Homo sapiens: one gene and its partner. The protein of the gene in region 2 purifies or fractionates together with the protein of the main gene of each other region. This does not show direct contact. Each region holds a gene or a part of one and is shown on either strand. Other genes may lie near its edges.

What was found.
Region 1: the proteins of TBC1D8 (region 2) and ENPP1 purify together in Homo sapiens (affinity purification with mass spectrometry; one large-scale study listed by BioGRID and IntAct). This does not show direct contact.

The regions. Positions count from the first base shown.
Region 1 is NC_000006.12:131,884,311-131,888,343, reverse strand, and holds part of ENPP1 (ectonucleotide pyrophosphatase/phosphodiesterase family member 1), read right to left. Parts: intron 3,414-4,033; coding exon 3,281-3,413; intron 1,783-3,280; coding exon 1,620-1,782; intron 1-1,619. UniProt on the Homo sapiens protein: Nucleotide pyrophosphatase that generates diphosphate (PPi) and functions in bone mineralization and soft tissue calcification by regulating pyrophosphate levels.
Region 2 is NC_000002.12:101,144,883-101,148,382, forward strand, and holds part of TBC1D8 (TBC1 domain family member 8), read right to left. Parts: intron 1-3,500. UniProt on the Homo sapiens protein: May act as a GTPase-activating protein for Rab family protein(s).

The DNA of each region.
Region 1 (4,033 bases), on a different chromosome or scaffold from region 2:
CTCCAGGTACCTACCACCCATTCATTGGGACTGGTATGAAAGCTACATCTTTTTGCAGATTCAGGTTTAGACTTACTTGGTGTCACTTCAATGAAAAAAAAAAAAAAAGGAAATGTAGGAAGTACTCTGAAAGAAATATATTTTGGCTCACCATAAGAGAAAACTTAAAAATTGCTAAAATGGGCCGGGCACAGTGGCTCATGACTGTAACCCCCGCACTTTGGGAGGCTAAGGCCAGCAGATCACCTGAGGTCAGGAGGTAGAGAACAGCCTGGCCAACACGGCGAAACCCCATCTCCACTAAAAATACAAAAATTAGCTGGGCATGGGTGGCAGGTGCCTGTAATCCCAGCTATTCGGGAGGCTGAGGCAGGAGAATCGCTTGAGCCCGGGAAGCGGAGGTTGCAGGGAGCCGAGATCACGCCACTGCCTTCCAGCCTGGGTGACAGAGCAAGACTCCAAAAAAAAAAAAAAAAAAAGGCCAGGCACGGTGGCTCACGCCTGTAATCCCAGCATTTTGGAAGGACAAGGCGGGTGGATCACAAGGTCAGGAGATTGAGACCATCCTGGCTAACACGGTGAAACCCCATCTCTACTAAAAAAAAAAAAAAAAAAAAATTAGCCGGGTGTGGTGGCGGGCGCCTGTAGTCCCAGCTACTCGGGAGGCTGAGGCAGGAGAATGGCGTGAGCCCAGAAGGCGGAGCTTGCAGTGAGCCGAGATCATGCCACTGCACTCCAGCCTGGAAGCCAAAGTGAGACTCTGTCTCAAAAAAAAAAAAAAAAATTAGCTGGGTGTGGTGGCGGGCGCCTGTAGTCCCAGCTACTCGGGAGGCTGAGGCAGGAGAATGGTGTGAACCCAGAAGGCGGAGCTTGCGGTGAGCCGAGATCATGCCACTGCACTCCAGCCTGGGAGCCAAAGTGAGACTCTGTCTCAAAAAAAAAAAAAAAATTGCTAAAATGTTATGCAGTCTTGATGTCCCAATCTACAATGTAGATTTTTAAAATTCTGAGCAAATAAGATAATATAAAACAATTATTCCCAAACACACTGGGATGACAATACGATAAGAAAGGAAAAGATTTTTTATAATTAAGTGATACACAGAAAATTTGAAATGTTGTCTAACAACTTTAATTTATAACAGTGCTGACACTTTGAAATTATACATCCAGTTTTAAAAAAAGAGAAAATCCATACCTCAGATAAACCTAGACTTTAGTGGTTAAGCCATACAAAGTTTGATTCTGATCTGATTTTTAGTATCTTTACCAGACAAAGGGGCCAGGCAGGGTGGCTCACACCTGCAATCTCAGCACTTTGGGAGGCCAAGACAGGAGGATCATAAGAGGCCAGGAGTTCAAGACCAGCCTGGGCAACATAGAAAGACCCTATCTCTAAAAAAAAAAAAAAAAAAAAGAAAAAAGTAAAAGCAGACAAGGGTAGTCTTCCCCAAAGATATGTCATCTTAAAAGATCAAATTTAAAAGCATCCTATAATTTCGAAGTCCATGTGTACTCAGTTGTGCTTTCTCTCACTGTAATGTCAGATGGGTGACATAAACAAATATGCATATGTCTAGATTTTCAACATGCAAAGTAAATATACAAAAGCTACTTACCACACAGCTCTCGCTGTTATCAGTCCTGTGAGGCAAAATGAAAGCTAAGGTGTCTAGGTTTTCACAGTGCAAAGGCGTCTGAGATGTATCTTTACAGCTTGTTAGCACAATAAAGAAGTGAGTTGGAATCAAAATTTCTTGGTTACGGATGACTCTTCTTTTTCTGTAAAACATGCCAATATTCATTTTAAGAAAGAAATAACTATCTTCCTTTTGATGAATATTTCAGTAGAGCATGCTTTTAATACATATAAAAATCAAATTCAAACAAATAATTAAATATAAGAAGCTAGTAATCACAATACCTCAACATACTCTGCCAGATTGAGAGCAATAATTAGAAGACAGGCAGATAAACACACTCCAAATAATTTTTATTTTCTGTAGAAGTTTATTGACTTTTAGAATTCTTTTAGTTCTACCTAAAGACATTGAAATTGAAACACTAAAGAAAAGAAAATGTCATTTTTGAACACCTATGACCAAGAGTGTAAACCATTATTGATAGTCTTAACTTCTAGGCGATTATAGACAAATAGTGGGCAGAGAAAGAACTGGTTAGGAATTTTCTATTCCAGCCCCTTCAGAGAGGACATGTTGTCATGAATTGTTTGTTCTAACTGGATTTTCTTCCTTAATAACTTAATTTTTTAAACTGAAGTATATTATCAAAGATGTCCCAAACATCTTTACCTCATAGTCATTCTCCTATTTTAAGGCTGTGTTTGTTTTTTCAACATCTTTCAAAATTTAAGGCAGTGGAATCATTGTTTTCAAATATGACCTTATGTAGAAACATAATCTATAAAACAGATTTAAACAGAGGGCTCTGGGTGAAGCCGTGGGTAGGAAGCATATGCAGTTCTCTTCTGTATCCTCTCCAGTGCTACAGCTTCTAAGGCAGCTTTATGCCTCAAGGGAAAGTAAAAAACTGTAACTTTGCAAATTGATGTGCTTTCTGATGTATTTTGTAAGTCACATATATCTAAGTCAGCCTGGGAGAGTAGGAAAGTTCTGAGAGGGGCTGAATCTCAGTGGAATCTCAGTCTTTTTCCTACGGACTTAACAGCAAAATTGCTTCCCAAACTGCTGTAATTATTGTTTCAATAAAGATCAACCAGTTTCCAAGATGTTCTTTCCCTCTCTTTTTTAAAAAAGCACCACTGATGGTTTCCTTCAGACGGTTGCTTTTTATCATGCCCCTCCAGCCACAGTTGGGTAAAAGCCATAACATTCACCCAAGGCCACCAGACTCCAAGCACTGCAGCTTTATAACCCTATTCATTCCTAGACTCAGGATATCTGTAGCCACACCATAGAGTTCTTCATCTTCTGACTCACAATATATTAAGATCATATCTTAACAATCAGCCACACAGAGATCTTAAATGAGTTCAGCATTTAAACTGAGTGCAAAAATTATTCAACTGAACTGAATGGGTGAGAAACACTACTTTTTTACCTAAAAATATTTTACTGAACATTGAGCAAAACATCAAAATTAATCAGATATTTCAAGAGGCTTCCTGTGTAGTCAGAAGTGTCATACACATAAACATACGACACTGGATAAAAAAGGTTCTGTTGACTCAACTGGATGGTAATCCCATTTCTACTGGATGGTAATTCCTATTTTTAAGAGTAATGAAATATGTTCTTACTGCCTCAGATTCTCTAAGGAATCACAACGTCCATCATAATCAAAGTCAAACACAGGACCACTGACGACATTGACACCATTTCTTTCTTCAGCATACTTTCGCAGTAGGGTGTCATGAAAGTAGCGCCATATAACTGAAACAAGATAGAAGCCAGTGTAGTTTCAAAAGAACAAGGGACCATGTTGACGTGTGAAATAAATTAACACCATGATTCAAAATTAGCATTTATAGTAAATAAAGATAAAGTCAAGTTTGGCTTCAGTCTTCGTTTTGTTTTGTTTTTTGTTTAGAGACAGAGTCGTGCTATATCACCCAGGCTGGAGTGCAGTGGCACAATCATAGCTCACTGCAGCCTCAAACTCCTGGGGTCAAGAGATGCTCCTGCCTCAGTCTCCAGAATAGCTAGGACTACAGGTGCACATCACCATGCCCAGCTAATTAAAATTTTTTGTAGAGACTAGACACCAGATCTCACTGTTTCCCAGGCTGATCTTGAACTCCTGGCCTCAAGCAGTCCTTCTGAGTTGGACTCCCCAAAGGGCTGGGACTGCAAGCATGAGCCACCACACCCAGCCTTGGCTCTAATCTTAGTGTGAGGCCAAAAATTCATTGTTCAGCTTTGGCCTTTGAAAGGACTCACAGACAAACGTTGAACCCAACTCTCTTTGAGACATCCCTGAACAAGTACATCATGTTGAAATTGTGATCATATGTCATCATTAAGCATAGCAACATCGCAAACACAAACAAGGC
Region 2 (3,500 bases):
AGCCAAGATCACGCCACTGCACTCCAGCCTGGGCAACAGAGCGAGACTCTGTCTCCAAAAATAAAAATAAAAATAAATAAATTCCTCCTTTATCCAGTGCCACCTAAAATGTGGAGTCAAGATCATAAAATCCTTCTGCCTTCACTTCTAGTAAATGAATTCTTTACAAGCTACCAGCCTCTCAATAATTGTCAGCTCTTCCTAAGGAGTTCCAATTAGGTGGAAAAGGCCACCCTCCAGTATCCCACCACCTGCACAATTTGTACCTTATATTATCTCCTGGAGTGACACAGTCCGTGCCTTGTTTGATTATCTCATTACAAATACATTGCCCTTATTATGCTCTCACTAAATGCAACTCTTGGAAACCTCAAGGCTTTTATTAATAGATTATCAGCCCCTAAAGATATATCAGTTATTTAACTTAATTTTTCAGATGTATGATCCTAAAATCAAACTACTTCCTTTACTTGTGGTTTCTTCCCTATTATGCTTTTAAGAAAAAATACCAAAGCATGTAAGACTCTGGAGCCAACATCTGGGACTTCTATAGAATGCAACAGGCTGCCCTGTTAAGTCAAAGACTTTCACTGTTGGAGGAGACAAAATTCACCAACAAACTCAGCTATATGAGCAGGACTCCAGCCAACCTCAGACAGACTAGCCAAGAAATGCAACATCCATGCTGGACTTCATCAGTTTCCAACCTTCTGATAAGAGTCCTTCTGAGCAAGCCTTGTAACCCCACATGAATCCTTAGCCTGTCAGTTTCACCTCCCCCAGTCATTAGGACACTCTTCCAAAGGCAGTAGGTGATTCACTGGAGGCACAGCATGAGCACTCACACTCAACATTTGAAACAAGGTGAAGCTCCCTTTACTCACTACGATTTAATGTGGTGAGAGGAGCCGTGTGCCCAAATCCTATAAAAACACCTTTCTCCTGAGCAATTCTTAACCCAAGCTGTTGTTTAAATATTTCATCTTTTAATTACACATATTAAATACTGCACTAATAGATAAGTGAATGTTTCTTATGTCCTTCACTACAATGCAAATGTTTTTACACCTTTATTCTCAGAAGCCATTATTCAGTTTTTTTAAATTGTACTTTGCTTTTCTTCTGTCAAACCTACCAGGTGCCAAGCACAATTAAGCCCTTGATGTATACTGTTTATTAATTCTAAGCCTTATTTTAATCATAACCATTATGCATTGCTGATGGGAATGAAAAATGGTACCGCTGCTGTAGAAAACAGTCTCTAACCCTCCGAAGTAAGATTCATTATTGTCCCTTTCTTAAGGCTGAGTTATAACTAAGGCTCAAAGAAACTGGATAAACTAACTCAAAGCCTCTCAGTCCAGATTCTTAATGAACAGACTTACTTACCTTGACTCCAAAGGTTGTATTTTACACTATTTTTCACTATACCATACTTCCTCCCTTCACCCTAACTGTTTAGGTAATCAGCCCATCACTACTACAAATGCAATGACAGGAACAGGGACTTAAGGTAACCATGTTGCAAAGCAGAAAACATCAATTCAAATTACAACTTTTAAATTGTCAGCCAATTTAAGAGAAGAATTGCAAGATTATACAGGAATACACGCAATAAAACCCTGAAAAATCAAATCCTTCAGAGGACACAGCTGGGTGGTGATATTTGTTATTTAGAGTAATGTTTATTCCACTCACTATTTTTTAATTATCACACTGTAATTGTACATATTTATGGGATACAATTTGATGTTTCAATACTCATATATGTTACATAATTATCCAATTCGGGTAGTTAGCATATCCATTACCTCATGCAATTATCATTTCTTTGTGGTGAGAACATTCAAAGGCTTCTCATTCTCATAGCTATTCTGTAATACACGGTACCACCACAGTCACCCTACTGTGCAAGAAAACAGCAGAACTTACTTCTCCTATCTAACTGTAACTCTGTACCTGTTGACCAACCTCTCCCTATCCATCTTCTCCCATCCTGGTAACCACTGTTCTACTCTCTGCTTTTATAATACCAACTTTTTAAGATTACACATATAAGTGGGATCATGCAGTATTTGTCTTTCTGTGCCTGGCTTATTTCACTTAACACGATGTCCTCTTCCAGGTTCATCCATGTTGTTGCAAATGCGCCAGGCACGGTGGCTCACACCTGTAATCCCAGTGCTTTGAGAGGCCGAGGCCGAGGCCGAGGCAGGAGGATGGCTTGAGGTCAAGAGTTCAAGACCATGTTGTCGCAAATGATAGGATTTCATTCTTTCGTATAGTTGAATAGTGTTCTGTTGTATATATCTCACATTTTCCTTATTTATCTCTTGTTGGACACTTAGGTCGATTCCGTATCTTGGCTATTGTAAATAGTGATGCAATAAATACAGGAACGCAGGTATCTCTTCAACATACTGATTTCATTTCCTTCGAATATATACCCAGTAGCGGGACGGCAGGATCATGCAGCAGCTACATTTTCAGTTTTTTGAAGACCCTCCATACTGTCCTCCATAGTGGCAATATTAACTTACAATCCTACCAAGTGTGAGTGTTCCCTTTTCTGCATATCCTCACCAACACGTTTTTCCTTTGTCTTTTCAATAATAGCCATTCTAAGAAAAACATTAATTAAATAAACAAGTAATAGCCATTCTAACTGGAGTGCGGTATTTCCTTGTGGTTTTGATGTGCCTTTCCCTGATGATTAGTGATGCTGGGCATGTTTGATGTACCTGTTAGCCATCTGTATGTCTTCTTCTGAAAAATGCCTATTAATGTCTTTTGCTCATTTTTCAATCCAGTTATTAGATTTTTTTGCTCTTGAGCTATTTAAGTTCCTTATTATCCCACTCACTTGAAGTGCTTCAGAGACCCTGGGAGAGAGGGCAGCAATGTTGTGTGTTCTTTCTCTGCACAGTCTCTTTCCCACATGCTAACATCTCCGGGCTCTTTGTTCTCCCAGAGCTGGCTGAACTTGTTACAAGAGGTTGGAGACTGTATCAAAGTGAACACTGTATAACTTTATTTCCTTTCCAGAGTAGCAATATCACTTCCGCAAGCAGAAGTTTGGAAACATCTCATAATCCTGAATTCTGCCATGCTATGCTCTAACCTGAGGAAAAGATGGGCACCTCCCTAGTAGTGCTCAGAGCCCAGGAGCTAACAATGGCAGCCACATCTGTGCCCGCCCTTTCTGGCCACCAGAGAAGTTAGTGTGATGATCCATCCCCCTCAAAAGAGGGAGCTACAAAAAAAGACTGGAGGAAACAATTGTGTTTCCCACCCACACCCCTCCAGCTTTCCATAATGGTCAGACTGCCAGGTAAACAGGAAGCTGAGAAGAGACAGGGGTTGTTCCTGTTCCAGGCAATCAGTCCGAAATGCTGGGCCTCTACTCCCACCCAACTTTTAAGAAAAAAGTGGGATCCATCATCCATGCATACAGTCACCCATCCATTCATCCTACAAATGTTTCCTGAACAAATATGCTG